2 separate regions of the Homo sapiens genome follow, and region 2 is linked to region 1. A link means that fine-mapping ties the variant in region 1 to the expression of a gene that starts in the linked region. Tissue or cell type: whole blood. Region 1 holds a variant in brackets; the other region holds the start of a gene. All regions are shown on one strand. Distances are between the middles of the regions.

Evidence for each region. PIP is the estimated chance that this variant, and not a neighbour inherited with it, causes the effect.
Region 2: it holds the start of CCNC, and the variant in region 1 is fine-mapped to the expression of CCNC in whole blood (INTERVAL, PIP 0.99).

What each region holds. Positions count from the first base shown.
Region 1 is chr6:99,541,506-99,544,271 of GRCh38, forward strand. It overlaps CCNC (cyclin C), which reads right to left. Exons shown (of 12, transcript NM_005190.4): 12 at 882-2,104. The coding sequence ends at 2,050. It also overlaps the pseudogene TSTD3. Among named protein-coding and RNA genes, the nearest start is that of CCNC, 26 kb to the right of the region's middle. The variant C/T (reference allele first, on the strand shown) is at 1,071.
Region 2 is chr6:99,567,413-99,570,178 of GRCh38, forward strand. CCNC (cyclin C) reads right to left here and starts at 1,248. Exons shown (of 12, transcript NM_005190.4): 1 at 1,084-1,248. The coding sequence starts at 1,115. It also overlaps the pseudogene TSTD3. RefSeq lists enhancers at 946-1,025, 1,146-1,435, 1,556-1,605.

The DNA of each region.
Region 1 (2,766 bases):
CACAGCTACTCTGGAGGCTGAGGCTGGAGAATCACTCGAACCCAGGAGGCAGAGGTTGCAGTGAACAAGATTGCGCCACTGCACTCCTGCCTGGGCGACAGAGTGAGACTCCATCTAAAAAAAAAAAAAGAAAATAAAATAATAACAAGACAAAAGACTTGTCAATAAATTGTAATATGTGATCCTTATTTAGATCCTGACTAGAACTCTAACAATTTTTATACTTGTGAAATAACTGAAAATCTGATATTATTTTTACTAATTCTTTTTGAGGCACAATAATACTTTTAGTTTTTTTAAAGAGCTATTATTTCTTAGGAATATATGCTGAAATATTTATGGATAAAATTATATGATATCTAGGATTTGCTTCAAAATAAGATGGGGGATGGCAACTTACGGAAAGTGGGTGGGAGTTTAGATGAAATGAAATTGGCCATAAATTGATAACTACTGAAGCTAGATGATAGGTACATGGAGGTTCCTTACTTTACTCCTGTATATGTTGTTTTAAATCTTCCACAATAAGAGACTGAAAACAAAACTATGAGGCATGGTATTAATTTTAAAAATAAACACTTAAAGACTATAGGTCTTACCTAAGCCCAACATTAATTCCTTCAGACCTGAGGAGAGCTTTTTTTCTTATTAAGCCCAGGAAACCTATATATGTCATCAGTCTGACTTTACACAGTCTCGCTTTCCAGCTCATTTGATACGCTCCATCAGAAATAAATTTTCTATTTAAAATCTGTTTGTAATGATTTGAAATTACCCCCTTGACAACCTATAAAAGGCTTTAACACTTAACTAAAGGAAGAAGAATTCTCAAAAAACAACATCAGGCAAATTCAAAAAGATAAATTCAAGACACTAGTCGATACAGCTGGAGAAGTTACTTTTATTCTTGCAGTTTTATACTAGGAAGTCAACATTTAATAAGCCATCATCCACAATTGATTAAAAATGTTTAATCCTTAAATTGTGCATCAATATCCTATGACTCCAAATTTTATTTATCACTCTCCTTCAAGTCTGAAGAAAATGATTAATTTGCTAAGTTCCACAGA[C/T]AGTACAGTCCCACTGACATAACATTTAGTATGATGTCCTACTCTCATATTAGAATTAAGGACAGCCAGTATCAAACTGGCCTGAAACCTGATTGTGTTCCTGGTTCAGAATACCTGTAGTAAATCTGTAAATCCACACCAAGACACAACATTAAACTAGGGTGTGTATATCTTATAAAAACCTTTTCACAGTAAAAATCAACATTAAAATTTTACCAAATTCCAACATTATGGTTTTTGAATCCAATTAAGCTTTCAAAATGCCTGATTAGCTGTGAATTAATTATAAATAACTTCATGTAGTTTGCCCAGCATTTCAAAATGGTTATGGACTATCATGTTTAAAATGTCAAAGTATGCTATACATATTGCACTTTTCTGCTAGGCTGGGCTAGTATCTTCCATGGCAAGATCCTCAAACTACTGAATAAAATACACTTTTAAATCAATATAGGTACTTGATTAATTTCCCTGAAATTATCAACATCATTACCAAAATCTTCCAGGATTTTGTAAGATTTGATTCCTTAAATACAGTTTTAAAGTTAAACTTATGGAGGGAAAAAAACCCTCATAGATTGACTGTAAATTTTACGTCCTTTTTTGGTCCCTCAATGACCAAAGAGAATTTTAAACAAATTATGCTTCATGTTTCCTGGCTTAATAAAAAGCTACAATTTTTATTATCCAAATTAAGAAATATTATACTAATCAAAAGCTATTAATTTTGAAATGTCTATGTATGTCTGTCTGTAGGTCCCCTTAGAACCTTTCCAAACATTTATAATCAAGAGATTTTAATCAATTATGTACTAGAATCATATTAAAGAAAAACTTATTTTGCAAAAATAAAATCACTTTCCAATATGCTTGACAGAAACAAGCTATTCATTTTCATTTGTGTTCCACTGAAGACATTACTGAAATCTGTCCAATGGTTTATTTCCAAGTGGTCCACTATGGAATTCTTCGGAATGTTTTAAGATTGGCTGTAGCTAGAGTTCTGACTTCCATTTGGACCCTGCTCTCCTTCACTGTTCAAATGGGGAAGAAAGAGATTTTATACCAATTAAAAGATCCATTTTTACACCCTGATAAGCCTACTGACTTTTAAATTCATTATTCTGTGGCACAACTATACAAAACAAAGACATTCCTCATTATAAGACACGTGAAAAATTAAAATCCAGAAGACTAACAAACATTGGTTTTATGTTTTTATTCTTATATAACTTTGTGCCCTCACATATAACAAGCATTCTGGAAGTTAGTGTCCATATATACTCAAAAACTTTAAATTAGGGTATGGGATTTCATTGTTATTACAGGTATCACTCAACATAGAGATTACAGCTTCTTCTAAACAAATTTCCTATAAAATTAAATCTTACATATAAAATCCTATTCCTACTATTTATGAAAAACAAGAAGTGTTCTTCAAAAAAAAAAAAAAACCAAAACTGTTGTCCAAAGGCATAATAAAATCATATATAAATACAGCAAACCTTTATAAGTCAGCAAGAAATATGGTAATTTCCTGGAAAATGCTGAATACTTAAAATAAAAATGCTGAATACTTAAAAATAACTAAAACTGAAAATACCAGTAACTTTGGCAATAGGATTATTGCCTTATCTTGTCCACCATCATCTTGCAGCTTCAGGCCCTGCCACTAGTGGAGAATCACTCAGGGAAT
Region 2 (2,766 bases), 26 kb after region 1:
ACACACACATATATATACACACACACACATATGATCAGTGGTAAAGCTTCTTTAACATGTCATCTCCACAGAATCACTTTATAGCAAGAGGAAAACCTGCTTTTCCTTAAATAGGTTACTGAGTTCATTGTTTCTTTTTTTCTCTTTGCAAAGGGCTAAAAAATGAACATCAGGAACAGATCCTATTCACAGAATCGAAATTTAAATTACTTACTAATGCTTTCTTAGCATAAAAAATTATACCAAGATACCTTGTCAAATTCTGTTCATCTTTCAACTATACAGTGGAAAGCCTACTCAAATGTTCAATTTACCCCATAACGCACCTTCCTGCCTGCTTAAACAAATGTATTTAGGGATAAATGTTTTTAATATTATTCTAGCTCTCACATGGTCACTGACAGAAACAAGAACTTATTCATGAAAAAGGTTAAAGAAACAGGTAAACAAAGTCACTGGAAAAATAGGCCTTTAAAACAAAATATAAAGCACAGGCTAATGAAATGGATAAATTTAGAGGGCACCTGCCCTATACCTTATCAATATAAAACTCCATCTAGACATAAAGTACGCGCAAGAAGCGGTTAGTAGGCAGAAACAAGCCAGACTCTCTCCTCTCCTCATAATATTAAATCCACTCAAGATATACAGTGAATGACAAAAGACCACGACGCCGATCACCCGAAGAAACCCCAGGTAAAAGCACGCCACAACTGTCCTGAACAGGTAGCCTCACAGTCTTGAGCTGAGTCACACTTCCCGTACCTGTGCCCACTCTATCCGACCCCCCGCGGCCTAGCTAAACCAAGAATCCGAAATTAAACTCCGAAACGTTCCTTCCCGGGAGACGAAACTCTCTCCCACCCCTCCCCCTCACAGATCCTTCCCTCCCCGAAACTGGGGCTGGGGGCGGGGAGGGGAGTCGCCTCAGAAAAGCGCATCTTGATTCTGACCGCTGCGGTCTCCCGTGAGGACCCCGGCACTCGGAACTGAGCTGGGATCCAGGCCCAGGGGAGTCACAGGCCCCGTCCTCACAGCTCCCCCAAAAACCGGCCCCAGGTGAGAAGACGGAAGATCGCTTACTAGTGGGAGCTCTGCCAAAAGTTCCCTGCCATGGAACACAGCTTGCCCTGATAAAAAAGCACCAGCCGGCGGAGCGGCCCGCGGAGCGACCATAGACCCAGCCCGTCCGGTAACCGCGCTCCTCGATCAAATCAGCTCGGCTCGACTCCGCTCCGCGGCGGCGACGGCGAAAGGAAGAGGATGGCCCCCTAGTCTCCTTCACGCCGGCCGACAACACTCAACTGTGCAAACCCGTTCCTATCGACAAAAGTTCCGGCCCGCGGTAGCGGAGGGAGCCGGAGGGGAGGTGCTGACCCTTGGAGGTGCTGAGATTGAAGAGAACTAGTGTTCACGAGAGCTCGCGGCGGTTGGAAGGCTCTCGCGAGAGCGTCTTGAGAATTCTGGCCGGGGGCCCAAGCCGCTCGGTCTCCTGTCTTCAGCACGGGAGTTGCTGAGTGGGTCTAACCTAGGCGAAGTGGCTCAGATACGGGGTTCTGTTATTACCTCTTCCAGGACTTCAAAAACAGAACAATGTGGCATTGTAATAAAGTACAAGGTTTTGTGACTTATTTTTCCTGTGATTGGAAAGAGAAATAAATGAAGATGACTTTGTTCTCAGGGATCAAGTGTTCCTTTTTTTTTTTTACTTTATTTATTTATTTATTTTGAGACGGAGTCTTGCTCTGTCTCCAGGCTGGAGTGCAGTGGCACGATCCCGGCTCACTGCAAGCTCCGCCTCCAGGAGTTCAAGCGATTCTCCTGCCTCAGCCTCCCGAGTAGCTGGGACTGCAGGCGCGCACCACCATGCCCAGCTAATTTTTGTATTTTTAGTAGAGATAGGGTTTCACCATGTTGGCCAGGATAGTCTCAAACTCCTGACCTCGTGATCCGCCCTCCTCAACCTCCCAAAGTGCTGGGATTACAGGCGTAAGCCACCGCACCCTGCCTGTTTTTTACTTTTGAGACGGAGTCTGGGTCTGTCACCCAGGATGGAATGCAGTGGCACAATCTCGGCTCACAGCAACCTCTGCCTTTCCAGTTCAAATGATTCTGCTGCCTCAGCCTCCCAGGTAGCTGGGATTACAGGGATTACAGGCGCGTGCCACCACGTCCATCTAATCTTTGTATTTTTAGTGGAGAGGGGATTTCGCTAGGCTGGTCTGGAACTCCTAACCTCAGGTGATCCGTCAGCCTCAGCCTCCCAAAATGCTGGGATTAACAGGCGTGGGCTACCAGGCCCGGCCTGGATCAGGCGGTTTTTTTTTTTTTTTTTTTTTGAGACGGAGTCTTGCTCTGTCGCCCAGGTTGGAGTGCAGTGGCGCTATCTAGGCTCATTGCAACCTCTGCCTCCCAGGTTCAAGCGATTCTCCTGCCTCAGCCTCCCAAGTAGCTGGGACTACAGGCTCACACCACCACGCCCAGCTAATTTTTGTATTTTTAGTAGAGACAGGGTTTCACCATGTTGGCCAGGATGGTCTCCATTTCCTGACCTCGTGATCCGCCCACCTCGGCCTCCCAAAGTGCTGGGATTACAGGCGTGAGCAACCGCGCCCGGCCGCGATCTTTTTTTTTTTTTTTTTTGAGACGGAGTCTCGCTCTGTCGCCCAGGCTGGAGTGCAGTGGCGAGATCTCGGCCGCGATCTTAATGGAGTTATTTTGGAGTGATAAAGTGCAAACTTACAGAGCAGCGGAATCAACAGTTTT